Homo sapiens: one gene and its partners. The protein of the gene in region 4 interacts with the protein of the main gene of each other region in a pairwise test. Each region holds a gene or a part of one and is shown on either strand. Other genes may lie near its edges.

What was found.
Region 1: the proteins of TMEM109 (region 4) and STOM interact in binary tests that used the Homo sapiens proteins (3 or more experiments, as listed by UniProt).
Region 2: the proteins of TMEM109 (region 4) and SLC18A2 interact in binary tests that used the Homo sapiens proteins (3 or more experiments, as listed by UniProt).
Region 3: the proteins of TMEM109 (region 4) and MGST3 interact in binary tests that used the Homo sapiens proteins (3 or more experiments, as listed by UniProt).

The regions. Positions count from the first base shown.
Region 1 is NC_000009.12:121,360,233-121,367,257, reverse strand, and holds part of STOM (stomatin), read left to right. Parts: intron 1-1,012; exon of another isoform or gene 1,013-1,142; intron 1,143-7,025. UniProt on the Homo sapiens protein: Regulates ion channel activity and transmembrane ion transport. Regulates ASIC2 and ASIC3 channel activity.
Region 2 is NC_000010.11:117,236,791-117,244,124, forward strand, and holds the start of SLC18A2 (synaptic vesicular amine transporter), read left to right. Parts: upstream 1-4,323; 5' UTR 4,324-4,430; intron 4,431-4,870; exon of another isoform or gene 4,871-4,888; 5' UTR 4,889-4,903; coding exon 4,904-5,024; intron 5,025-5,094; exon of another isoform or gene 5,095-5,207; intron 5,208-7,180; coding exon 7,181-7,334. UniProt on the Homo sapiens protein: Electrogenic antiporter that exchanges one cationic monoamine with two intravesicular protons across the membrane of secretory and synaptic vesicles.
Region 3 is NC_000001.11:165,648,213-165,655,237, forward strand, and holds part of MGST3 (glutathione S-transferase 3, mitochondrial), read left to right. Parts: intron 1-1,628; coding exon of another isoform or gene 1,629-1,635; coding exon 1,636-1,752; intron 1,753-2,801; coding exon 2,802-2,875; intron 2,876-3,765; coding exon 3,766-3,823; intron 3,824-6,066; coding exon 6,067-6,139; intron 6,140-7,025. UniProt on the Homo sapiens protein: Displays both glutathione S-transferase and glutathione peroxidase activities toward oxyeicosanoids, as part of cellular detoxification as well as synthesis of bioactive metabolites.
Region 4 is NC_000011.10:60,917,154-60,923,964, forward strand, and holds the end of TMEM109 (voltage-gated monoatomic cation channel TMEM109 precursor), read left to right. Parts: intron 1-462; exon of another isoform or gene 463-2,000; intron 2,001-2,532; 5' UTR 2,533-2,540; coding exon 2,541-2,777; intron 2,778-3,732; coding exon 3,733-3,835; intron 3,836-4,620; coding exon 4,621-5,012; 3' UTR 5,013-6,290; downstream 6,291-6,811. UniProt on the Homo sapiens protein: Functions as a voltage-gated monoatomic cation channel permeable to both potassium and calcium. Plays a role in the cellular response to DNA damage.

The DNA of each region.
Region 1 (7,025 bases), on a different chromosome or scaffold from region 4:
TAAGAAGGCATGGAAAAGCAATTTCCTGAAAACTATTGTAACTACAAAAAAAGTGAATACCCTTTCCCTGCGTCTGCCTGGTATCCTGTGCATATCTCTATCATAATGTTTATTACATAACATATTTATCAGTTTGACTCATCTGTCCCCTCCCCTCCCATAATTAAACTACACTTTTTCTTTTTGAGACCGGGTCTTGCTCTGTTGCCCAGGCTGGAGTGCAATGGTGCAGTCATAGCTCACTGTAGCCTCAAGTGATCCTCCCACCTCAGCCCCTCGAGTAGCTGGGACTACAGGTATGCACCACCACACCCAGCTAATTTTTTTTTTTTTTTTAACTCAGGGTCTCACTATGTTGCCCAGGCTGGTCTCGAACTCCTGGACTCAAGCGATCCCACTTTACCCTCCCAGAGTGCTGGGACAACAGGCATGAGCTACCAAGCCTGGCCTTTAGACCACACTTTTGAAAATAGAGATTGTGTCCTTCTTCACTGTAGTAGCCCAGTATCAAGTACATAGTAGGTATACAAAAACATTTGTTCAAAGAAAAAGGAAGCAGGCAGGGAGATAAAAATCCCCCTGGAGTAAATAACATTGTTAAGTGTTTGCCTTAGCCTTATGTTGGTGGAGCAGTTTTTCTGTTTACCATTTATTTTATTAAGTTTGTTATAACTTAAGCTGTTGATTTTAGGGCATGGCCATTATGTTTATTATATATTATTACAGATAGACTATTTGTCTGGGTTTATATTATCAATAAAAGGATTATAATTGCCAAGATAATATATTGTCCTTAATAAGAAATCTCCTTTTATTTATTAAAGCATGGAAAGAGAAGTTTAGAGGTCATGGTTAGTAGAAAGAAGGAAGTGTGTGTCAATAGATAATTTTCTATTGACACACACTTGTTGATAATTAAAATAGATCATTTCAATTAAAATAATTTTCTATTGACACACACTTGTTGCTACATTCTTTTTTAATCTTTCTCTGTCTGCTGGGACTACTAAAGAAACTTGAACTCCAAGCATTTGGCCTCACATTTCAGAAGATTATCCTTGAAGATACAACCAATAAAGTCCTAAAGTCTCAGACAATGAAAACTATACTGAACTTGTGGTCCAGTTAAAGTGAGCACTATGGTAAGGTAGTAGAATATAGTGAAATGAGAGTGGAATTTATAATTAAAAGATTTAGGTTGAGATCACCCTACCATCACTTAAGAGATTTGTATGAAGGATGGTCCAAGAACATTTAGAACTCTGACTTACTGCCCCAAGTGTAGTCTGTTTCTCCTCCAGAGATAGAGTCCCCAAGCAGATTGTTAGTTGATATTTTCTCCATAGTGCCCAGATCCCAAAAGGTAATTCACTTCATAAAAAGTTTCTTCCTCTAAACTTATCAATAGTGATCTTAAAGTTGTGGTAATAATAATGGCTACTGCTTGTTGAATACTTCCTAAGTGTCAAGCCCTTTACATATTTTCTCGTTTTATCTCCACAACAACTGAGTGAAATAAATACTGTTCTTTTCCCCATTTTACTGATAAGAAAATTTAGTGGTAGATTTGGAATCTAACACCAAAAATGCAAGCTTTTAGCCACTGCTTAGCTGTTAATCACAGTGAAGAACTGAGAACTTTATCATCTAGTTTTCTTCTGCTTCCATTTCCCATTTTTAAATGAAAACGATGTTACCCTCCAAAGACTTATATGAGAAAAACTTAATTGTGAATAATTTTAAGATGTCCAAGTAAAAGAGCTGGGAAAAAAAAAAAAAACCTAAAAAGTGGGAGGGTTTTTGTTCTGTTTTCATGTATTTCAGGCCTAGATGAAATTTAATTAACTTAATACCCATTATGAAATTGTTTTTCTCTCCAATTTTCCTGAACATAAATGTTTTGGTGCTTCCAGACATGGGCCATGTTCAGCCCATTCTTCTGCTTTCCTGAATTCTCTAACGTCATGGTTGGAAAAGGTCTGATTTTTTTTTTAAAAAGAAAATACTTGAGGAAAGCAGTTGACAACTGCTTGGGCAGGAGATGGTTCTGTACTGTATCCCAGGATCCTGTCTGCTGTTTCAGTTTGTCTTATGTGAGAGGCAGTCTTTTTTTTTTCTTTTCCCCAAAAAAACAACACACTCAACTCATCCAGCAACTATTTAACAAATGTTTTTTGAGTACCTGTTATATACACTAAGTGTCTTCCATATTAGCTTATTTACTCATCACACTAACCTGAGGAGGTACTCTTATTAGCCCTATGTTTCAATGGGTAGACTGAGGCACAGTTGAATAATAAGGTACTTTCTCAAGATCACACAGCTAGTAAGTGGCAGAGCCATCTGTGAACCTATTATGCTATACTGTTTTCATAAAACCAAAATCTCATGAAGACACACAACTGAATAGAATAATTACAAGTGTGATAAATGTTGTTTTAAAAGGGTAAAGGGCTATTGCAGCATTATTTTAGACTGAGAGGTCCAAATTTAAAATTATTGCTGTTGCTCTCACCTATTTTTTTCCTCTTGTATGGCCTGAAACATTTGAATGCAGGAAAACTACAGAAAATCCTTAAAATATTTAGGAAATAAGACATTTATGCTTATTTACTTTCCTTATTCTTTTTGAGCTAAGCAAAGAATAACTGTTATTGCAAATCTTTCTTAGAAGTATTAGTCCATTTGTTTTCCTTAGTATTTCACAGTAAACACATTTTAAGCTTTGTAATTCAAACCACATAGTGCTTCATCAGTATCAGTTCTTTTGGTCTAGCATTTATAACTATAGATGGATTTTAATAGGGAGGAAAAGTTACAGTCTTCACTCATGGTTTTTAACTTGATACCATCTGGCCTGTAGCTACTCTAGCCCCAAGAATAATTTCTTCTCTAGAGATTTAAGGATAAGGGCATTCGAACAACTAAGCCGTGCCTAATTAAAATACTAATTTGAAAGGCAGGCTATAATGTGTGTGTGCTTGTTTGCTTTGAAATCTTCTGCCTTAAATGAATTGCAAGTTTTGATCTCTAATGAAACACTATCATTTTTTAACATACGTTTATCGAGACGCTACCATGTGGTAAACTCTGCCTCTTTCTCACTTCTAGCTTTTTTAATCTATCTCTCTTTGTAGGATTCTGTCTTCATTTTTGTTTCTCCCATTTTTACTCCTTCTATTTCTCTTATTTTCCTTCGCTTCTGCTATGTCCTTCCCTTCTTTGTCTTTTTCTCCTAAAATTCCAGTCATTTGAAAAACTTAGTTATAGTAAAAATTTGATTAATTGAAGAGGAATTTATATTCACTTACTCTACCTGCCCTTTTGCTTATTTTCACCAGGAGTTTTTGTTTATCAGGCCTTATAAAGGCCTTGCTTCAAAATAAGCAAAAGGGAGAAACTGAGAAGCTGGGAAATGTACCCTTATTTGAATAGCTGGAAGAAAGATCAAATGCATTATTTAATTTATGCAAGTCTTCCTCCTCAAATAAATAGTTGGCTGACATAAAACAGGAACAGCGTGTAACAGCCCATTGTCCAAATCTAGCTGACTCTGTTTCTGTATGTCCCACAAGTTATGAAATAGCTCTTATATTTTTAAATGATTTTAAAAAGGCAAAAGAATACTTTTTCATTACACATGAAAATTATGTGAAATTCAGATTTATGTCCATAAGTTTTATTGGAACAGCTGTGCTGTTTATGTAGGTACTATCTATGGCTTCTTTTGCACTGCAAAAGTAGAGTTGAGTAGTTGCAACAGACTGCAAAGCCCAAAATATTTAGTTCCTGGTTCTTTACAGGAAAAGTTTGCCAATCCTGACAAAGAATCACTGATGAAGAATCATAGTGGCCAAAAGTAACACTTAATCCTGAATACATATGTTTTTAAGAAGAAAGTTCAAAAATTGCCAAGACTTTTCAATTTGGCCTACTGTTACCCCTAAAAAGTGCTGCTGCAACTGAATAGCATGTGTTTTTGAGACTAAACTTCCAGCCTTTCTGTCTTGCCCCATCCAGGCAGGACTGCTCTCATCAATTTACAACATGAAGTGTTTTATTTGCACTCTGTGAAGGCAGAAGGAAAAAAGTGTCCGTTAAAAAGTGGCAGTTTAGGTATTTCAGTAATTCCTTAGCCCATCCTTTCTTATTGTGTAGGATAATGCTTATGACTCACAGTCAGATTCTCAGCAGAGGAAATCCAGTTATCTGTTGAACTTTACAATAATAAAATCTCAGTGATGAGTGGATTTATTACTCCACATGATTTCCAGTAGTGCTAAGGTTAATAGATCTGAAAGTAAATCAGCTGATGGGGAACGGGGACAACTACAGCCCTCTGGACTAATCAGCCTGTGTTGTCATCTTGGAAAGAATGTTTAACTGCCTTTCCAGAAACTTACCCAACAAAAATTACTACACAACAAATTTCATTTGTTTCATGGTTTGCTTGGTTTTCTTTTGTTTCTTCCTACAAGGTCTTTAGCCTTATTACTTTAGAACTTCAGGAGGCATATTTTAACACCTACTTCACAGATTTTTGTAAACATTATAAATACTCATGTATGTAAGGAGGAGCTACATGTGGCTAACATGTCATAGGAATTCATAAATGGTAGTTATTAGGAGTAGTAACAAAAGATACCTTCAGAATGAGAGAATTTTAAGAGTTGTATAATTTCATCTTTTCAGAAAAATTAACTTACACAGGAAATAAGCAGGTACAGAAACACTGCTAAATATATATTCAATGCAGCAGTTTCTAAGTGAGAAATTTGGACACAACAGATTTCATCATATAAAATGGAATTAATTAATTAATCTTTAATAATGATAAAGAATATGTGCTGATATGAAAAAATGTTCATAACATGGATGGGAGGGAGAAGATTTTAAATCACTGTGTATACCATTCTTTCATTATTGAAAAAATACAGGCTAGAAAAGGTTTAAAAGACGTATATCAAGGCAAAAAACATCCAGAGATAAAGTATAGATAATGTTTCTGTTTGTTGAGCTATCATTTCTAATTTTTATAGTAACTTTTGCTTTTAAAGTAAAAAAGCAATTTTAGAAAATGTATGTGAGTTTCCTGGAGGTAAGCCCAACTTGAATGTTCAATACAAAAATTCAAATGTACAGGCTTATGTCCATATTCAGACCCTTCTTTGATTAGTTAAAAGTTTATTCTACTGCCATTTTGGTAATAAAAGAAAAAAAAATACTCTAAACCAGGAGTCCCCAACTCCCAGGCCACAGACGGATCAGATCAGCAACATTAGATTCTCATAAGAGCACAAACCCTATTGTGAACTGCACATATGAGGGATCTAGGTTGTGTATTCCTTATGAGAACCTAATGTCTGATGATCTGTGGTGGAACAGTTTCATCCCAAAACCATGTTCCCCAACCCTTTCCTGTGGAAAAATTGTCTTCCACGAAACTGGTCCCTGGTGCCAAAAAGGTTGGGGACCATTGCTCTAAACTATGGCAAAGTAGTATTTACAACCAAGTATCATAGGATCCCTAATTTTTAGGAACATTCTCAACCAGCAAAATACCCACAAGTGGCCGGGTGCATTGGCTCACGCCTGTAATCCCAGCACTTTGGGAGGCCGAGGCCGGAGGATCACGAGGTCAGGAGATCAAGACCATCCTGGCTAACACGGTGAAACTCCGTCTCTACTAAAAATACAAAAAATTAGCCAGGCATGGTGGTGGGCACCTGTAGTCCCAGCTACTGGGGAGGCTGAGGCAAGAGAATGGCGTGAACCCAGGGGGCAGAGCTTGCAGTGAGCCGAGATCTCGCCACTGCACTCCAGCCTGGGCGACAGAGTGAGATTACATCTAAAAAAAAAAAAAAAAAAAAAAAAAAAGTCCACAAGTGTATTAACCAAAATATCACTATTTGTCCCTTTCCCCATAAAACTGGTAGGAAGGATTCAGTCCTAAAGTAATACATGGGAAACTTGAAGGAAATGAATTTCCTGAGATTTTAGTGAGTGAGAATTTCTTTTCTCTTATTCCCAGAAGTGGTAGATGACTAAGGGTTCATTTATAAGCCTGCTAGAGTTTAAGCCTCACCTCTGAGCTATGCATTTATAGCACAACATGCTATAAATAGACACAGCTGGAATTAAGAGGGCTTCCTCTGTAAAAACATCAGATTTCAGTCTCAGAACTCTAGTGATGCATTCCCAACTTAGATACTGTGTACCTTTTTGAGGGGTAACCAGGTGGGGAAGAATTTTGAGAGGTGAAGGTAGGATACTTTCATTTTAAAGTCATTAGAAAAATATGAAAGTGCCATTTTCCCAGTGTATACACTGATTATTTCTAGCCAAGCATTTGATATGTGAAAGACCAAATCCAGTTTTCAAAATGTGTACTTAATTCCTTGTTCCTGGTGATTTGCAATCCCATATACACATCTGGGGTTCTCAAAAACACAATGTGACATGGGAACTGACACAAAAAAAACTGGGCTGAACTTTTTGGCTTGTCCTCATGTAGATCATAAATGAACTTTTTGAGAGTCTTTGAATGTCCCAGCCTAGCCAGACTGGGGGCAGGTATGAAGCAAATGGCAAATTAAATTGTTTAAGAGGCTTTTGATCAAAAAGGGTAAATGCTATTTTCCCATTTTTCTTCATGAAGATACAAACACTTAAGTAAAATAGAAGGATTACAGAAAACTATCATCTACATTTACTGATCATTTTATCTGTATTCTACAAGGCCAGCCTAATAATCTTTACTTTCCACCGGTAAGGAAACTAAGGTTCAAAGAGGTAAAGATCATGCAACTAAGAAGTATCAGAAGTGAAATTCAAACATAGTTACTCCTCGTTCTCAGGGAATCTCAGTGTAATAAGGGATATAAATGCACAAGAAATTAAAATATTAGATTAAAAAATAATAAAAGATTAAAATCCTACATTGGAAGGTCAATTAAAAATAAATAAAAAATAAAAGATTAGACAAGATATAAGTGCCATAAGATAATTTTCAAAAAATGCTATCG
Region 2 (7,334 bases), on a different chromosome or scaffold from region 4:
CAGCTCGCTGGCTCCTGCCTGGCTACTCTACTCTCCCTTCCTTCCCTGTCTGTGATAACTAGTACGCCAGGTTGGGCTAGGCTAGGAACCACTGAGTCTCTTGGGATGGTTTTGTTCGTTTCTGCTCTGACCCATTATTTGAATGTCACAGCTTAATGCCCAGGAGGTGAGGGTACTGTCCTTGTTTCCAAGTTCTCTGGTGGGGGAGCACCTGAGGATTTTTCCCCCAGGAAACACCTACACCTTCCCTGTATCCAGCAGTTTCCATTTTCCAGTAACAGAGAACACCTAATGTCAGGCACTAGGCAAGGCCCATCCCACTTTCTCTCTATAACTATGCTGGAGGGAGGGACTGTTATCCTGCTGGAGAGACAGATAAGAAACAGGTATGTAAAGGTCAAGTAGAATGACCAAGGTCATGTAACTTGTAAGAGACCCCACTAGGATGCTGTCTACAGCTTAAACTGTTAGTGCATCTCCAGTAATGTCTATTTCAAATAACTGCTATGTCCCAGGTGGCTACTTCCTAAATAGAATTTAGAAATTATCATTCTCAATTATTGAAATGTAATGAAAAAGTAAACTCGGGTACCACCTTTGTACCTCCTCAGTCCCCAGTGTCTAAAAAAGGTGCAAGTGAGTGGAGGGAGAGGAGGGAGAGTTACTTTCCTCTAGAGAGGAAGTAACTCTAGAGGAAGTAATGTTTCTTTGAGGGTTACTCAAAGGAGGAAGTGAAGTAAAAAGGAGAAGTAACACCTTCATGAGGGTTTATAAGGGAGGGGCCTGTCTGATGCTGGACAGCATGCTTTCCTCCATGAGGAAATAACTAGAAAAGAAGAGGAAGCGGAAAGAAAATGTGCAAAGGCCCTGGGGCAGAGAAATGCTGAGAGGAACCACTGTGGCCAGAGGGGGAAGGCGAGGGCTAAGATGTTTGAGAAGTGGCCGTGGAGGCTCTTCAGGCTGGAATGGCAGGACACTGAGTGTATATGAAGATGTCCCGAGCCGTTTGAGACCCTCAATTTTCATGTCTTCCATTCTAAAGCTTATCTGGCTGATATGGACCTGGGTGGGGACATGCACATGCTCCTGCATGGCCTCCCCTCTCCACAGTCTCCCATCTTCCCCTGGGCAAAGAAAGGCTCCCTTCCTATCTAACCTGAGTCTGACCCCCTTCCTGTATACAGTGTCCTGAGGCACAAAAACATCCTCGGCACCAAACAGAGACACTTTTGGTGTCTCTTTCAGCAAGACTCCAAAAATCCCCTCTCTATCCATCCCTTAAGTAATGCACTTTTAAGACAATTTTCCTTTTTATGTTTAATAATTATTTATCAGAATACATATTTGTGTATGATGTCTTGATCACTTAAATACCATTAATCATTGTTATAATCACATAATCCTAAAGAGAATTTTAGAGCCTTATTAATTAATCATTAATTAATTTTTGAGGCAGGGTCTTGCTCTGTTGCCCAGGCTAGAGTGCAGTGGTGTGATCATGGCTCACTGCAGCCTTGACTTCCTGGGCTCAAGTGATCCTCCCACCCCAGCCTTCCAAGTAACTGGGACCCCACGTGTGTACCACGATGCTCAACTAAATTTTAAACTTTTTTGTAGAGGGTCTCACTATCTTGCCCAGGCTGGTCTCAAACTCCTGGCCTCAAGAGATCCTCCCACCTCAGCCTACCAAAATGCTGGGATTACAGGCATGAGTCACTGTGCCTAAACTTTTTTTTATACTTTCAACTTTTGTTTTGGATTCAGGGGGTACATGTGCAGGGTTGTTACACTGGTATATTGAGTGATGTTGAGGTGTGGGGTATGACTGATCCTGTCCCCCTGGTAGTGAGCATAGTACCCAAGAGTTAGTTTTTCAACCTTTTCCCCCCTCCCTCCCTTTCCCCTTTAGTAGTCCCCACCAGGGTCTGTTGTTGCCATCTTTATGTCCACGTGTAGAAAATTTTAAAAAGCTAATGCATATTCACATATTTATTGTGGTTCACATAATAGATAGGTGATGAATACAGAATTTAAACAATAAAAGCATTAGGGTAGGATACAATTCTGTTGGAAAACGGAATGGAAACATACTTAAAAGGGGTAAAGAACACAATGTAAATATTTTGACTGTTAAAGGGATACTTGTTTATATTCTTAAGTATAACATGGCAGTTTTGTATTCTTATACAAATTCCTTTGGGTATATTTAAAAGAGAGAGATAATAATTTTATACATAAAGGTCAATAAATACAATATACCCTATTTAAATATATGATTAAAAAACTCATTTTAGATGCCAACTTGAAAATGTGTAAGGCAAACATATTGTTAAACATTTTTTAGGGGGTTTCAACAAAAAGTCTGTTATAGGCCATAGTGCTCTAGGGGTGGTGACAGTGATCCGGAGGCGGGAACGCCGGGCTGGCATTGTCCCTGGAGCCATCTACATCCAGCTGGCTGGGCTGGAGTTTGGTGTGGCTTCCAGTGTTCACTGCTATGATGCTGCTATCAGGTCAGAATGTCAGCAGGGATTTGTCTAGGCTTTACTGTCTCCCCAGCATTAACCATAGTGCCTGGCACGTAGTAAGAGCTCAACACATATTCAGCGCATGAATGAGGGGCCGGCACTTACGGAGCTCTCACTTTGTGCCAGGCACTGTGCTAAGAGCTGCCTATGCATTCCCCTGGAATTCTCACAACCACGCTGCAGTAGGTCCAGTGAGTATCCCCATTCCAGAGATGGCGAAACTAAGCCACAAAGAGGATACATAACCAGCCCAAGGCCACCAGTCAAGGAAGTAGCAGACTGGGACCTGGGCATCCTGGCAGGCACCCTTTACCATAATGCCTCTCTGTCCCCATGTGGTCCCTGGGGTAGAGTCTGCATCCTTGGGTTCTGAAACTCCAGAGCAAGCACTCTGGGGCACTCCCTGAGTGATACCCTCCTGCCATCTTAAACGGCTCTCTGCCATCTGCTTCCTCCTCCTAAGTGGTTTTCCTTCTGTCCTCCCTGTTTAATGTTTAAGTTGTGCACATCCTGTGACATCCTGGAGACCCATGTTCCTGACCTACTTACCTATTCAACCATCTCTTCTCACACATGGGGTAGCAATGAGAAGCACAGGGGGTCTCTGCAAGGGAGTAGGGAGGTGGAGAGAGCGGGGGCAGCCACACATCACACTGCTGTTCTCAGTGGCCTCCTGCTGTCAACAAGCTAACATTAATAAAACAAGCCCACTCTTCTGCTAAGAGACTGTGACAGGGTAACATTTATTCTAGGTAGCTTTTCAAGAAAACAGCTCTTGCTCCCACGGTCCCCTCGGAGGGCCTGCAGAGCTCCAGCGATGTCAGAGGGCATCTGTTTGTTTCTCCTTTGCTTATAAAAGGGACCTGGAAATCAAAGGCAGGCTCTTAGCCCTTAGCAGTGAGGATGACAGCTCTGCACCAGCCACACGCAGGCCCCTGGCTCTAGGAACCACCTCTCACCCAGACGCCCAGGCACAGCATGGTGGGGAGAGAGTACAGGACACAGGGCCTAGGCCTGCTGCCCCGCCCACAGCCCGCCCCCTAGCCCTTTCTCTGAGGCCAGGTGTACTCACCTAGCCTCCAGGGTCCCCTGCTCAGGTGGCCCCAGAGGCCCAAACCCACTGCTCCCACTTTCTGAGACCTGGGACCCTCACCTCCCCAACTCCCACCATAGGGCGACACTGAAAAGTGTCCCCTTCCCCCCCCCGTTTCCAAGTCACCAGCTTGAGGATGCCCAAGGCTCAAAGGCTCCTCCGAGTGGCACCCCGCATCGGGCTGCAGAGGTCGGAGAGGGGAGGGGATGGTGGGTGCAAAGGGTGGCTTCTTCAGGAAAGGGAAGCCTGTCCCTGGCTCCCAGCACCTGTCACCCCTGGCGATCTCACCCCGCGGCCATCATTCCCGTCCTCACGGCCCATTTCAGGGACACTGAGGCTCAAAGAGCCACGTGATTTATTCAAAGCAGCTCGAGCCACCACTTGGAGCCACAAGAAAGCCCTGGTCCGTGCCTCCTCGCCTTGGTCCCTGGCCCTTCACTCTTCGTCCAGGCTCTCTGACCTCTTTCCCTCTGCGCCCCTGCCTCTTCCCCAGGCCTGGGTCCCCAAGGCACTCGGCCACGCGCTGGGTCCGGGGAAGAGGCGCGGCCGCGGCCGAGGCGGGGACAGGGAGGCGGCAGCCCCTCCTGCGCAGCGACGGCGCGGGCGGGCGGAGGCCGGGGCGCCCCAGCCCCCCGCCCCCGCTCCCTCCGGCCGTGACGTCAGAGCCGGACGGGGTAAACTGAGCGGCGGCGGCGGGGCGCTGGGGCGGAGACTGCGACCCGGAGCCGCCCGGACTGACGGAGCCCACTGCGGTGCGGGCGTTGGCGCGGGCACGGAGGACCCGGGCAGGCATCGCAAGCGACCCCGAGGTAACACGGCCCCGGTTCCCTGCTCGCAGGGCGCGGTGCCGGAGGGGAGCGGGCCCGGGGGAGGCAGGGAGGCAGGGAGGCCCCCAGAGCTACGCGGGCGGGGCTGCGGGGACCCCGGGGCAGCCGGGGCGCAGGGCGCAGGGCGCAAGGTGCACGGGGCCGAGCGTGCAGTTTGGGAGGTGGCACAGTTGGGGGCGGCGGGGATCAGGGCAGCGTCCTGGGGGTTCTAGGTTGGGTCTCCAGATTGGGTCCCCGACGGCGCTCGCGGGCGCTCTTTCCAGGGAGCGCGGGCTCTCGTGGGGACGCGCTCGAGGCAGGTGAGCCGAGGCTGGGGCGCCCGGGGGTGTCCCCGGATGCCGGTGCGCGCGGCTCCCTGACCCGCCCTTCCGCGGCCTGGGGGACGGGAGAATGGGGGGTCCACGGCCGCCTTGGGTCCTCACCGCGCACCGCGCCCGCAGCGGAGCCCCGGAGCCATGGCCCTGAGCGAGCTGGCGCTGGTCCGCTGGCTGCAGGAGAGCCGCCGCTCGCGGAAGCTCATCCTGTTCATCGTGTTCCTGGCGCTGCTGCTGGACAACATGCTGCTCACTGTCGTGGGTACGTGCGGACAGGGCACCCCTGCCCCGGCACCCCAGCCCCAGCGCCCCTTCCCCGGCACTCCACTTACCCCTGCGCGGTCCCGGAGCTCCGCCAAGGCCCGGGAAAGTTGGAGAACTCGCTTTGCAAAAAAGACATCCCCTCCAGGCTGCCGCGCCGGGGCTAGGAGGAGCCGCGTTGTGTGGCTTCGCTTTCCTGATGCTCGGGTCAAAAACTGTGACATCCGATAAGACCCAGAACTTATGTTTCCCCCTGATAATTTCCCGCATCCTCTTGCCTGCTTTCACTGCGATGAAAAAGATTTCTGTTCCAAAAGAGAAATTCCTAAAGTTCAAAATTACGTGTTAGAATAATTATTGGGCTACTCGAAAAGGCAGGTTAGTAATTTGGTGTAGTACCTAAAAGAGCAAGTTTCGATCCCTTACTCCAAAAACAAGACATTTAGATATACTGTATTAGTGAATGACTTGAGATGGAAATATTTCAGGAACCATTGCAAGAACAATTTGAACAATCTTGGTTCTATTATTTTTCCTATAGTGGAATTTTGAAAAATTAAATAATCGAAATCCAGGTCCCTTAATTAGGCCCATTAACAGAGAAGTATTTGGCATGCATTTCCTTAAAAAAAAAAATCCCAGTTTTTAATGAATGAAAAAAAAATCACGACTCATTTAGACTGTAAGTGGTGGGAGCTGTTTCCTTTCTCTCCATTTGCAGGTTTTCTCACAGCAGTTTTCAGAGCATCTGATAGGTTTCATCTCGAGGAGTTATCAGAGCCGTGGAGCTCATCCCTGTTCAGTACCAACGGCATTAGTTCTGCTTCGGCTCGAATGCTCCATTGGACACATGTGCTCACAGCTTCGATTATATGTTTCACAATTTAATTTGTATTTTTTGTTGTTGCTTTTTATTTTGGTTTTTGTTTGTTTTTTTGAAATGGAGTCTCACTCTGTTGCCCAGGCTGGAGGGCAGTGGCACAGTCTTGGCTCACTGCAACCTCCACCTCCCGGGTTCAAGTGATTCTCCTGCATTAGCCTCCCGAGTAGCTGGGTTACCGGCATGCCCCACCAAAGCTGGCTAATTTTTGTATTTTTATTAGAGACAGGATTTTGCCATGTTGGCCAGGCTGGTCTTGAACTCCTGACCTCAGGTGATCTACCCGCCTCGACCTCCCAAAATGCTGGGATTACAGGCCTGAGCCACCGTGCCTGGCCTGTTTCAGTTTTGCTTTTTCCTTGTGAAAGCCTTAGGAATTCTTAAATCTTACAAGTTGTAGGAAAAATTACAGATTCCCACTCATAATAGAAGGATGAAGTGGGCCTGTTGCAGAATTTCCAAGTTATTACTTCCTGCAGGTTAATTTTTTTCTAAGACACATAATGAAGTGTAGTTTTCTGTTTCCTTGATTCATTCATTTGAAAGTCTTTTGAGCCTCTCTTTCTTAGAAGCACTGGTTGACTCCAGGTCAGCACTCTCTTAACGTCAGGCCACATTTTGCTTTTCTGAAATATTCCTTGAAGGAACAATGTGGAAGAAACCCACAAATGACAGAATCTCTGGGACCAGTCAGTTCAGCACAGCAGCTGCCTTTTGAGAGGAGACAGTTCTCAGGGCCGTTGGGGGCATGGTTCTTTCTAGTGAGCTAAGTAAAGTGAACTTGCTCCAATGTCGTTATAGACATATGGCACAGGGCTCCTGTTTTGGGGTAGACCTGTCACCCTCTGGACCTCTTCTGGCATTTGACACAACCATAGTTTTGTTGTTGTTATTGTTGTTTTGTTTGTTTGAGACAGAGTCTCACTCTGTCACCCAGGCTGGAGTGCAGTGGTGCAATCTTTGCTCACTGCAACTTCCACCTCCCAGGTTCAAGCGATCCTCCTTTCTCAGCCTCCAAAGGAGCTGGGATTACAGGTGGGTGCCACCACGCCCAGCTAATTTTTGTATTTTTAGTAGAGAGAGGGTTTCTCCATGTTGGCCAGCCTGGTCTCGAACTCCTGACCTCAGGTGATCCACCTGCCTCAGCTTCCCAAAGTCCTGGAATTACAGGTGTGAGCCACTGCTCCCTGCCGACACAACCATAGTTTTTTGCTGGCTTTTTTCCTGGAGAGGGTTTCAGTGTGATCACCACCTTGCCATTCTGCTCTTATCCCCAGTCCCCATCATCCCAAGTTATCTGTACAGCATTAAGCATGAGAAGAATGCTACAGAAATCCAGACGGCCAGGCCAGTGCACACTGCCTCCATCTCAGACAGCTTCCAGAGCATCTTCTCCTATTATGATAACTCGACTATGGTCACCGGGAATGC
Region 3 (7,025 bases), on a different chromosome or scaffold from region 4:
CCTGTGGAACCAGCCCGCTGCAGTGTGTGCCCCCCAGCCCCCGGAGGGGCAGCGGGCATGCCTCAGAGAGCAGCTCAGAGTGAAGACGGTAGAAGGGGAAAACTGATGAGAATTATTGTGAATCATGGTGGGGAGGAGGGGTTTTAAGAAGTTAGGCCTGTTAGGCTGGGTGCGGTGGCTCACACCTGTAATCCCAGCACTTTGGGAGGCCGAGGTGGGTGGATCATCTGAGCTCAGGAGTTCAAGAATAGCCTGGCCAACATGGCAAAACCTCGTTTCTACTAAAAATACAAAAATTAGCTGGGTGTGGTGGTGCGCATCTGTAATCCCAGCTACTTGGGAGGCTGAGGCAGGAGAATCACTTGAACCCGGGAGATGGAGGTTGCAGTGAGCCGAGATCGTGCCACTGCACTCCAGCCCGGGCGACAAGAGTGAAACTCCATCTCAAAAAAAAAAAAGCAGTTAGGCCTATTTTGCTGTGCTAAGAGAAACTTACTTTTAATGAACTGAGCTGCATGCCTATCCCAAATTCTGTTTTAAGGAAGATGCTCTGACCACAGTGTCAGTTTGGCTCTAAAGTTTCAAGGGATACTGAAAGGGAATATTGGAACCAAATGAATCTGAATGGGAATCCCAGGTCTGTCACTGTCTGTTTTAGACCTTGGAAACATTACTTAACCTCTTTTGAAAATAAGGATTTACCATCTTGTTGGTTGGTTTGTTAGGATGATTAGATACATTCCAGATCAGGGTAACTCTCCTAGGTTAAAAGCAGGGACTGAAGCCAGGCAATTACCAGGGATGGAAATTTTAAAGCTGACGGCAGAACACACACCAGAGCTGCTGGCTCGTGGAAGCCTTTGAAGTGATGATTTGATGGGCAATCTGAGTTCCTCAGGAGCTGCCCAAAGCCTCATAGGCTCAGGAGCCATGCTCTGCTTTCAGAGTACTCAACCTGGGCCTTCCCCTACCTGTGTGAGATGTCTGCTGCTGCACCCGCACGTGCCCCAGGATCGAAGGGAGGCCTCAGAGTCCTGCCCTCACAGTGTCCCCCATGTCTGAAGGCAAAAAACTTGGAATCACTGTGCATATACTATTTTGGATGCTCGCTTTCTTGCTTTCTCACTTTCTTGCTTTCTCTCTCTCTCTCTCTCCCTCTCCTCCCTCCCCACTCCCTCTCTCTCCCTCTCCATCCCTCTCCCCACCATGTCCTGCTCCTCTCACTCCCTCCCTCCCCCTCCCTATGTAATGTATACTTTAGCATTTTACCATGTTAAATATTTTTTCAATAATGTGATTTTTGTTGGCTATATTATTCTACAGCAACGACTACTGCAGTGGTGTAGATAAATCTCATAATGTTGATCAGAATCTCCCAGGCACAAAAGAGAAAAAAAGATACATGACTGTATACTTTTCTGTGTATAGACTGCATAGTTGAGTAATTTTTAAATTATTTTATATGGTACTGTCTTTGATGACTTCTCAGAAACATCAGATTGATTCATACCTTTTTTTGGTCTCTATTTACTCATTTGCCAGTAATAAAGCATCTTGCTCCCTAAGGCTTCACACCATGAAATAGCCACAGTGCTGGGGGCCGTCCCAACGTGTTCTTTCTTCCACAGACGCAAGATGGCTGTCCTCTCTAAGGAATATGGTTTTGTGCTTCTAACTGGTGCTGCCAGCTTTATAATGGTGGCCCACCTAGCCATCAATGTTTCCAAGGCCCGCAAGAAGTACAAAGTGGAGGTAAGTGGGAACACAAGCTGGTGCCCTTGTAGGCTTGTCTGGGGGCCACAGGCTTAGCCAAGAACTTATTTTCAGCCATGGAGGGAGAGGCAAGGAGCTAGTTGTGAGAAGTGGCAGTTTCAGGACTGTGTTAGCGATTCTGCTTCTTCATGGTAGGAAAGAGGCAAGAAATACAGGGCCCTGCTAGGGAGTAGTTTCCATCTTGTTTGACTTTGTCTCTTCGGTAGAAAGACCAGGAATGCTGGGATTCCAATAGTACACTTCTGCTTGGAGCTATTTGCTAGGAAGAGAGTTACTGTATTTTCCACAGAGGGTTAAATAGCAATATTGTTTCATGGTGTGCCACTTTAAAAATGATGTCTTATGGTGATTTTCCTGTTTTCCAAGTAGAAAAGAGGTATGTGGTGTTGAGATTAGCCTGGACTTAGACATAGGAAGGTGGTCTATTAAACACTTCCTTTAGTTTTAGGTGATCTAGAAGGGATAATTACCAAAGTTGTCCCTGGTGAGTGGTTTTAAATGTCTGTTTCTGTTTAGCAACTTAATAATTAAACTCCCTTACTAGAGCTTCTTTTAAGTTTTTATATTTAGTTTCTTCTTTTTTTTCCCTTCCAGTGGACACTTCCATTAAGATTCTCACACACTCAATTTCTGTTCTTCTATTAAGGGAAATCTTAAAAGGATGTGGTATTTGATGACTCTTAGGAAGGCTCTATTTCCCTACAGTATCTTTGTAATGCATCTGAAATCCACCATTGATGCTTAACGTCAATGAAAAGCACGGAGTTTGGCGCAAAGCTGCCTCTTTCCCTTGTGCAACTACAGCGCAGACATACATTCTTATTCCTGGATATTTAATAGAAACATTGACTCTGCTTCTGAGAATTGAGACCCTTGTCACCATAAATATTTAAGCAGAAATTGAATGGTCATCTATCAAGGGTGTGAAAGAAGATACTTTGGAATATATTGTTTTTAAGGTTCATTTTAACTTTCAACACTGAATGCTCCTCTTGACCATCTGATCAGTATGTGCTTTGTTGTGACAGTATCCTATCATGTACAGCACGGACCCTGAAAATGGGCACATCTTCAACTGCATTCAGCGAGCCCACCAGAACACGTGAGTGTCGGCCCTGCCGGGCACCAAAGACATCTGCAGAGTGGGTGTTTTCTGTCTAACACCTCAGCCCTTAGTGCGCTGTATTTGCTGAGTCATAGTGATGGTGACAATCATGGGCACCTCATTAAAAGTATTCAAAAATTATGTATGTGAACACATTGACTATTAAGCAAACTTAAGAGTGGTTGGAATGGTGGGATTTCGGGATATTCTTTTCAAAAAATGTCTTCATGGTTGCATTACCTACTACAGTTTTGCAGCATGACCCATCTAAACCGATGTTGACTCTCCCAGGCCTAGGGAGTGAAGAGGTTTTGAATGCTGTAAGGAAACCCACTCTGACTCACCAGGACCTTCCACTTCCATTTGTTAGATGTGAGGTCCTTTTACTCAGCATGTTCCAAGTGACCTCTAATCCCATGCAGAGCAAAGGAGGGTGGATGATAGTGACCAGGTCTTCTCCCTGCGGTGAATGTTTATTTTTACCCCCAAGCTTCTAACTTGGCAAGGAAGATGTAAAGATTCATAGTGCTGGCTGGGTGAGGTGGGCTCACACCTGTAATCCCAGCACTTTGGGAGGCCGAGGTGGGTGGATCACTTGAGGTCAGGAGTTGGAGACAAGCTTGGTCAACATGGCAAAACCCCATCTCTACAAAACTTAGCCAGGCATGGTGGCACGCACCTGTAATCCCAGCTACTCAGGAAGCTGAGGCATGAGAATTACTTGAACCCGGGAGGCGGAGGTTGCAGTGAGCTGAGATCATGCCACTGCATTCCAGCCTGGGTGACAGAGACACTCCGTCTCAAAAAAAAAAAAAAAAAAATTCATAATTCTACACAGGCATACTTAAAAAGGGCACTTTTTAAAAGTTTCTTTCTGTCAATTCCAGGTTGGAAGTGTATCCTCCCTTCTTATTTTTTCTAGCTGTTGGAGGTGTTTACCACCCGGTAAGTTTTCCAGGAGGTGTTCATCTATTTGGATAGTAGTTCACTGAGCTATTATCAGGGACAGAAGAAGGAAATAAACATTTAATGAATATCTTCAGTGTCTAGGCACTGCATATTTAAAAGGATTTTATTCAATTATTTCTTACAGAGTTCTTTAAAGGAGATGGGATTTTCCTCATATTTTACAGATAAGGAAAAGCCTCTCATATACTATTTAAACTTCACAAGGTCAAATAGCTACAGAGTAGAAGGATTAGAATTTGAACTCAGGTCTGTCTGGTTCTAAGTTTCATGTCTATAAGAGTTCATTTGTTATAGTAATTCATTCACACAACAAACTTTCACTCACCACCTGGGGTAAAGCAGTGATCAAAGCAGACAAAGACCCCTGGTTTCATAGAGCTTGCCTTTTTGTTGTGGGGTGTGGGGTGGTCACAGAGAAGAAGCAACCTAAGTAAATTACATCATGTGTTAGGAGGTGGTGAGTGCAGAGAAGAAAACAAAGTGGGGAAGGTGGAAAGGGGATGTGGAGTGGGATAATTTTGAATAGGGTGGTCAGGGAGGGGGGCTTTGCTGAGATGATAGTTAAGCAAGTATAAAAGGAGGTGAGGGAGCAGGTGCTGCACGAGTTTCCCCAACCTCCAGCCAGAAGACAAGCAAGGCCTGAGGCAGGCACCTGTCTGGTTTGTTTGGTGAGCAGTGAGAAGCCAATGGAGCCAGGAGAGGGGCAGCAACAGAGGGCAGAGGGGTGATGAGGCAGGTCACTGGGGACTTGCAGGCCTCTGCAGTATAGATAGCCCTGTGGGATGGAGATTTAGTCTGCACTTAAACATATCTAAATAAAGCAAGTTTATCAGCCTCTAATTAATTGCCATTTGGGTCTTGTCTTAGACAGAAGTGTTCCCCTTTTCTGAGGACAGATTATCTCCTGAAACCAAGTTCTGACCAGAGTGGCCCTTCAGACTTCTGGTTCTAAGCCTTTCCTAACCATCTGGTTCATCCTGAATGCCTTGTACTTTTGTTAAAAAGCTGCCAGAATGGCATATCTACTGCTTATGACCTTGAAGGCCTGCATTTTTTTCAAAGAAACATCTACTGCTCTTGTATCTCTTAGAAAATGTATCTTTCTGGTGCCTCTAAAGATCCCCATTCCTAGCAAGTGACTAGACTAGCTGATCTGAATAGCTCAGGTCTCTAGATTAGTCCTCATTTGGTGTCCCCACTCCATCCCCATTCCTATCACACATCCCTGGATCCCATTCCTTATGGGTAGTTCTGAAAAATAAGAGCTAGTTTGGGGACAAGCACCTAACAATTGTTCCTAGGTTGCCAGTCATTAGGCAACATTATAGTAAAGAAGGGCCTGGCAGAGACTAGAGCTGCTATATCGTGACTTGAGGGACTGGTGTTATTTTCATTTGTTTCACCCTCCTGTTGACATTTAATGTTACCCAAAATCAACTCAAACAAACAAAAACCCTGATGCAGTAACCTTATCCCTAACAGTAGCACTGCTGAGTGGGAAAGACACTGGGGAAGGCGGCCTTCTCACATGCTGTCTTCTGTGTTCTCTCCTTGCTTATTTTAACCAAGGAAGTCACCCCAGCATGACAGCCAAAGGGATGGATTTTTCATCTAAGTTTTTATTCTCTCTTCTCAAGGACATTGGGAACAGGGAGACTTTTCCCTCGAAGACCATGTATTCTGGGAGAAGCGCTCCCCTTCTTTCTAGTGGAGCTACACCCCCAGTGTAGCCTGCAGAACCACCTGAGCCCAGCCCTGCCAGTGACTGACTTCACATAGAACAGCAGCTGAGTCTTCAGTCAATCTCATGCTCAGAGGCCCATTTGAGAAAACGGCATTTCCCCTAGTCCTGACTTTGGGGCAGTTCTCTTTTCTGGCCTGCCCTGAGACCGGCTGGCCCACATGTCCTTCTCTTGAGCTCTGACACAAGTTCCCCAAGATGCCCAGGGCAAGTGGGGGGATTCCTTCTATCCCACCTGTCTAGGAGAAGGCCAATACTCATCTCCCAGGTCCACAAGCCAAGCCATTCATAGAAGAATCACAGATATTTTATTTTCCCGCTGAAACTAACTTAATTCTACCTAATTTGCGTGGGGAGTAGTTGGCCAAATCATCAAATTGTTAACTTTTTGCTAACATATTGTGTAATCAACCCTAGGTGTTAAAAAAGGTTTGCTTGTTTCTTTCATGCAAATACTAATGTAGCCCTTTTTTCTTAGCGTATAGCTTCTGGCCTGGGCTTGGCCTGGATTGTTGGACGAGTTCTTTATGCTTATGGCTATTACACGGGAGGTTAGTATATATTGACATTTGCCAAGGAAACAACTTTAAAATTTTAAATCCTATGCTGGCCAGGCACAGTGGCTTACACCTGTAATCCCAGCACTTTGGGAGGCGAAGGCAGGCAGATTGCTTGAGCTCAGGAGTTGGATACCAGCCTGGGCAACATGGTGAAACCCTGTCTCTACAAAAAATACAAAAATTAGCCGGATGTGGTGGTGCACACCTGTAGTCCCAGCTACTTGGGAGGCTGAGGCGGGAGGATTGCTTCAGCCCAGAAGTTTCAGGCTGCTGTGAACCATGATTACACTACTACACTCCAGCCTGGGAGACAGAGCAAGATCCTATCTCAAAAAAAAATAAAATCTTATGCTACTATATTTTTTTTCTTGGGAATTTGAGAAAAGGGGAAGTCACCTGATATTTAGGTGAAAGGTCTGTTTTCTTTTTATTAATCTTTCAATTGTAACGAAACTTATTTTTATTGAGCATTTTCTATGTGCCAACCACTACTCTAAGAACTTTGCATATGTTATTTAACCTTACAACAATTCTGTAATACAGATATTATTGCATTTTACAAATTAGGAAACTGGGACTCAGCATGATTAAAGCTGTAGGTCACAGAGCTACTAAGCGTAAACTAGTAAACTAGGAATCAAACCCATGCAGTCCGACTCCAGAGCCTCACCATTACTATACCTCCTATATCTGAGTAAGGAGGAGGAAAAGCCATTTTTAGCTGTACTTCTTTGAAACAGAGGGAACTCCTTCCAAAGGTCCTAGAGCAAAGTTGCTGTAATTATTATCCCATAATTTTCTAAGATCCAAGCAATACTACTGTGGCACGTTACTTGGCATGTGGTATCTGACTTGCCAACAGCTTCAGGCTAAAGAG
Region 4 (6,811 bases):
GTACCCTAAATGTAGTATTTTTAGAACCCTTTCCTAGACTCTCCTCCTTCCCCCTAAGCAAGACTAGGACATCATTCTCTTCCTTCTCCATCCCTCATGGCTCTGGATTTATTGTCAACTCCCTGAGTGCCTGTGTAACTGCAAAAAGTTCAAAAACCTGACTGCTCCTACCTCAGGGGCATGGCTTAGCCTCTGATCATCAGGTCTGAATCATGAAAACTCCTGGAGCTACAGGTTCATTTCTGAACCTGGAGGGGAACAGGGAATTTGCTGGCGCTGTCTGACATTTCTCAAGCACAGTGGCAAGTAGAAGTTGAACTTGTGTACTTTTTCTTGGCTGATCCTTACCTGCTTCAATGAGTTGGCACTTGTTGGGTCTTAACTTGTCTGTGGCATTGTGTTACAAGACCAGAGCACAAAGCACAAAGTTGTTAGGTAATTTTCACCAGTAATTCACTGAGATGATTGGTAGATGCCAAGTTTATTTTAACTCATGAATAATCTGTTGTGTGACTTTTTTTTTTAAGCGTCTTGCTCTCTTGCCCAGGATGGGATACAGTGGCATGATCATAGCTCACTGCAGCCGTGACCTCCTGGGCTCAAGTGATCCTCCCCCCTCAGCCTCCCAAATAGCTGGGAGTACAGGCACGCACCACCACACCTGACTAATTTATTTATTTATATTTATTTTGTAGAGACAGGGTCTCCTATGTTGCCCAGGCTGCTCCCAAACTCCTGGGCTCAAGCAATCCTCCCACCTCAGCCTCCCAAAGTGTTGGGATTACAGGAATGAGCCACTGTGCCTGGCCTGTATGACTTTCTAAATCACTTCTGAGACTTAGTTGGAGACAATACAGCAGAGTTGTTGTGTATGAGGGGTCCAATGTCAGAAGTACCTACATTCAAATGCTGATTTCCCCAGTTAATACTTAACCTGCCTCAATTACTTCAGTAAAATGGGGGATAATAGCAACACCTACCCGATGGGCTGTTGTGACAGTTAAATGAGCGCGGTGGTGCATGGCAAGACCTAGCTGAATGTTAGCTTTTTATTAATAGTATTTCTTTAAAGGTTGTTCATTATACCCTTGCTCACTGTCCTCGTCCATTTTCTGCTTCCTATAACAGAATGCCACTGCCTGCGTAGTTTATAATGAACAGAAATTCATTAGGGTCACAGTTCCAGAGGCTGGGAAGTCTAAGGGCATGGCGCTGGCATCTGGCAAGGGTCATCCTATGGCAGAAGGCAGAACCCAGCACATGAGACAGAGACAGGAAATCAGGCCAAAGTCATCCTTTTTATCAGGAGCTGCATTCCTGGGATAACTAATCCACTCCCAAGATAACGGCATTAATCCATTCATGAGGGCTGAACCCTCATAACCTAATCACCTCTTAAAGGTCCCACCTTTTAATACCATCATCATGGCAATTAAATTTCTTTCTTTTTTTTTTTTTTTTGGTGGAGAAGGGGTCAAACTATTTTACTGAGGGGAATGGGGTGTCAAAGAAGTACTTAGGACCATGAGATCCAACATCCTTGGCTGGACTGGGAGCTCCCAGGCTCTGCAGGAGGTGCAAGAACAGTTAAATTTCAACATGAGTTTTGCTCTTCAAACCATAGCACCTCCATTGGGGGTGGGGAGGTGAGGTCACTCTGTATCAGTGGTTCTCAACTTCATGCAGTGGAACTGCCTAGGGAGCTTTTGCAGATCCAAGGCTAGGCCACACCCAGACAATGATATCAGAACCTCTGGGCTGGGGACACAGACATCAGTACTTGGGAAGCTTCCAGGTGATTCCAGTGAGCAGCCATGGTTGAGACCCACAGTATAACTTGACTCCTAATGAAGATGGGTGGAAGCAGAAGCTTGGGTTCAAATCCTGGCCTTTCTGTGTAGCCCAGTGACCATGGGAAAATGCTTAACTTCTGAGTCACAGTTTCTTCTCGTCTGTACCAGTAGGGGCGAGGAGGATAAAAGCCACCTCACATGATGGTCCTGCAGAGAAGATGACATATGTGCAGTTATTCTTGTTTGAGCACATAACTGAGCACTTTTCTTTATACCATTATATGGCAGTAATCCTACTTGTGTGCTATTTTTAAGTTGTTTTTTATACCAGCTGTATCTTAAGTAGATTATAAGCTCCTTGGGACAGAGCCTTTATAGAGTCTTATAATACTTTTATGCCTATAGCACCTAAGATACAGGGACAGGCCTTCAGATTTTTAGAACTGGCACAAACCTTAGAGAGATCTTCTCGCCAACTCTAAAGTGTTGAATAATACTTGCTGGTTAATTAATATGCAAGTGGTAAAGAATGTGAAAGAGGAACCTGTGAGTCAGATGGTTGTGCCCAGCTTCAGTTGGAAGTCCCAGTCCTTCCTCTCCCAGCTAACAGCACTTTCTTTCCAGGGTTAGTTTGGTGCTTGCTTGGGGTAGGGGTGGAGAAGGATGTTGGGATAATCAGAGCTGAGAGGGTGAGTGTGTCTACCATGGCACTCAGCTCACTGTGCTTCTCTCCTGGCAGACCCAGTCATGGCAGCCTCCAGCATCAGTTCACCATGGGGAAAGCATGTGTTCAAAGCCATTCTGATGGTCCTAGTGGCCCTTATCCTCCTCCACTCAGCATTGGCCCAGTCCCGTCGAGACTTTGCACCACCAGGCCAACAGAAGAGAGAAGCCCCAGTTGATGTCTTGACCCAGATAGGTCGATCTGTGCGAGGGACACTGGATGCCTGGATTGGGCCAGAGACCATGCACCTGGTGTCAGAGGTAAGGAAGGTAGTCCCTGTGTGACTACACACATTAAGGAAAAATAAAAGAAGAAAGGTTGGTAATGGCCACCTCATCTTAGTTCCACATCCTCTCTGGTGCAGAGAGCCCCAAATTCCACAAAAAGAAGCCACACAGCACTTGTCTTTGAATTCCTCGTTATTTGATTGCTGTCCTAGGGCCTTTTAGCTCCACCCCTATCCTTTCCTGGCTCCTGCCCTTTCCTTGCCAGAAAGGCTGGGAAATGAGCCATCTTTATAAGCCCATGTTACTGGGTGACTGTAGAGTCTCACTTTGGTCTAAATCTGACCTAGAATCTCGAAATGGCAAAATATCAAGTCCTGAATCCATTCCTTCACCTGCAGAAGTGGGTTGAGCTTATTGGGAGCCTAAGGCAGGGTTATCTTTTTTTACCTGGTGGCATCCCAAGCATGGTATCACATACTTTTGATAGGCTGGACTGAAGGGCTGAGACAATCATTTATTAAATCCATAATATAGTATAGCTGATAGACTCCTTTTTCACTGGAACATCCTATCCCTTTACAGATGTTCTCCACGCACCTTCATGACTCCCTGGACAGCTAGCAGGCCTCCAGTTTTATAGGGTGACTACTAAAAGTATTTGATTGTCTCCGTCATTCACACACAAGTACACCTACTACTCCCTCCAAAGTATCCCAGCAAAGCAGTTAAATTATGTCCCAGATGCCCTAGTTTCCAGTTCAGGAAGGAGAGACAGCCTGTTGGCCATCCCTGTAGACTAGAAGGTGGATGTGGAAGGGACCCCTCAGCCAGGCCCAAGGCCCCTACCCTCTGACCCAGGCCTGTCACCACTGGGTGAGAAACAGGTCTGAGACATTCCTGCAGTTCTTGCCTGGACAGTGGTGATCAGGCGTGAAGGCGAGGACCGTTGTTCATTATGAACTCATCTCGCTCCGTGCTCTTTCCACAGTCTTCGTCCCAAGTGTTGTGGGCCATCTCATCAGCCATTTCTGTGGCCTTCTTTGCTCTGTCTGGGATCGCCGCACAGCTGCTGAATGCCTTGGGACTAGCTGGTGAGTGTTCGAGTGCTGGGTAGTCAGCCAGAGCTTTGCCTGTACTTTCCTACTTGTGGGAGTTCATCTTTGTCAGGGTCTAGCCTTTTCCCCAAGCTGCTTAACCCTTCCCAGGATTCTGCAGAGACATGGCCAAAGAGCAAGCCAAGAACTACCATGGCCAGGTGTGGTGGCTCCCGCCTGTAATCCCAGCACTTTGGGAGGTCAAGGCAGGAGGGTCACTTGAGGCCAGAAGTTTGAGACCAGCCTGGGCAATATAATGAGACCTCGTCTCTATAAAAAATTAGCCAAGCATGGTGGCGTGTGTCTGTTGTCCCAGCTACTTGGGAGCTGAGGTGGGAGGATCGCTTGAGCCCAGGAGGTAGAGGTTGCAGTGAGCCGGGATCACGTCACTGCACTCCAGCCTCGGCGATGGAGCAAAACCCTGTCCCACCCAGACCCCCTAAAAAAGAACTTCCGCCACCACGTGCCAGTTGTTCACTTCCTATCAGGCATCGTGCTGAGCTGTAGTATCTCATTTAATTGCCAGCCACAGTACAGGGAGGCAGTAGAATTGTTCCCGTTTAGTAAATGAAACTGCAGCTCAACAGAAGCAAGTAATCTACTCCAGGCCTCACAGCCAGCAAGAAACAGAGCTGAGATTCCAACCCATATCACTCTGAGTCTGCGAGAACGGCTTATTCCTTTGCAATGTGCCTAGCACCTCCCACCCTTTTAGCTCTTGCCCCGCTCTCCCCTCACCACTTCTCCAGGTTGGCTGACTCTGTGACTCTCTTGGCTTCCAGGTGATTACCTCGCCCAGGGCCTGAAGCTCAGCCCTGGCCAGGTCCAGACCTTCCTGCTGTGGGGAGCAGGGGCCCTGGTCGTCTACTGGCTGCTGTCTCTGCTCCTCGGCTTGGTCTTGGCCTTGCTGGGGCGGATCCTGTGGGGCCTGAAGCTTGTCATCTTCCTGGCCGGCTTCGTGGCCCTGATGAGGTCGGTGCCTGACCCTTCCACCCGGGCCCTGCTACTCCTGGCCTTGCTGATCCTCTACGCCCTGCTGAGCCGGCTCACTGGCTCCCGAGCCTCTGGGGCCCAACTCGAGGCCAAGGTGCGAGGGCTGGAACGCCAGGTGGAGGAGCTGCGCTGGCGCCAGAGGCGAGCGGCCAAGGGGGCCCGCAGTGTGGAGGAGGAGTGAGCCGGATGCCCCACACACCGCCAGTGTCATACCAAAGAGCTGAGCTGCTTCGGGGCCATGCAGCCCTCCTGCCAGCCCCCTGCCCTTTTCTTGCCCTGTCTCTGAACCTTCAGAACATTGATCCTTGCCGCAGCCCCACTAGCCAAGAGAAACAGAGAAAGACCATTCCCCCTGCCTGTCCTTGCGGCCCTGTCTTCTGAGGTTCTCTGTCTGGGGTTGGCTCTCTTAACCCTTTCTCTGCTCCCAGCCTGCCTCACCAGGGAAGGTTGGAGGGGCCTCCCTCTGGCTTCTGCATCTGCGCCAGCAAACATCACTGCCGTTGGTCTCTCATGACTTAACTGGCTTCCCTCTGCTGCTGCCTTGGCTTCCTCCTAATGCTCGTGCTCTCCTGTCCTTCTGAAGTTGCTCCTTGGCCAAATCTCCAGCTCCCTTCTTGTTTTCCTCATCCTCCTACCCTGTACTCCCACCAAACCATGGTCCTTTAAGGCACGCTCCTGTCCTCCTCATTGCCCAGCAGTAGGGAGGGGCAGGGGTAAGGGGACCTGAGGATAAAGGGTGGGGAAACAGGGTCCCCTGAGGCCTGTGGGGGCTGCAGGGGAGGAGGATGTACCTTGTGTCTCTTTCAAGTGCCTTAATCCGAGCCAGCAGGGCCTTCTGCTTGCCTGCTGCCATACTGTATGTAGGAAAGTGTTCTGTGGCTGCTTTGTGTCAAGAAAAGAGCAGTCACTCTCAGAATCTTGATTCCCCATCAGCCAAAGCAAAAGATGGCTGCTGCTTTGTAGGCATGTGCCTGCAAGTGGGACCTTGCTGGGCATTATATGCCCTGTGGGGGTTTCAGAGACCCTGAAAGAGGAGGGAGGACCCGCCTCCTTGTCTGCACAACTGCATGCACTTCTCTCCCCATCGCTCCACAACCTGAAACCGAGAAGGAGTTGCTGACCAGTGCCCACCCCGGCAGCCCGGGAGGAACACAGGCAGCTCCTTTCCCTTCACGTGGTCTGCAGAGAGCAGGGTGAGCTGCCAGCTGCCCCTCTCCACCAGGGTACCCTGTCTTGGTGGTTAGGGGCCACTTTTCCTTTGAGGCTCTAGTGGAGGTGGATGTCCTTCTCTGCCAGGCTTGGCACATGATGTGAAGAATAAATGCCCAATTCTTACTGTTCAGGTTTGATGTGGAATCACAGCTGCAGTGATATATATTTTTTATCAGTGCTTGGTTGGTTTTAAATAAAGTGCACGCTATTTTATTATCTTGTTCTGAATAAAATGTATTTACTCCAAGTCTGGATTGCTTCCATGTCTCCTCTACTGCTAAACCCATTTCTGTAGTGCAGCTCCGCCTCCCAATTTCTCCCTGTGGGGGCAGTGTGAAGCTGGCAGAGGGGAGAGCTGAAAAGGCAGGCTGGTACCAGGTACCCTTCCCTCCAGGAGCACAAGGAATTAGGAAAGCATGCCCCCATTACAAAACGTAGGAACGACTGGCACTGCTGGAAATGCGTGTGCTTGCTGGGCAGAGGGGTCACCCCTTCCCTGCAGTGTGCTGAGGTGGGTGGGCAGCCTGGAGAAGACTTGCCTGCCCTCCCCTTCACCACCCACCTGAGGACTTTCCTGTGCCAAGGTTTCCAGTCGGCCCACAGGCTGGACCAATTTTGCGGAGGGCCTCAGACATAATTTTTTCTTTGTAAGCTGCCCAGGGCATGAGAGTGTGCAGCTGGGGCCCCTGCTCTGGGCCTCTCCCCAAACTGCCTGGTAGGCAACACTGGGTCAGGACCCTTGAGGCTGGCCTTCCCTCGGGAGTGTTG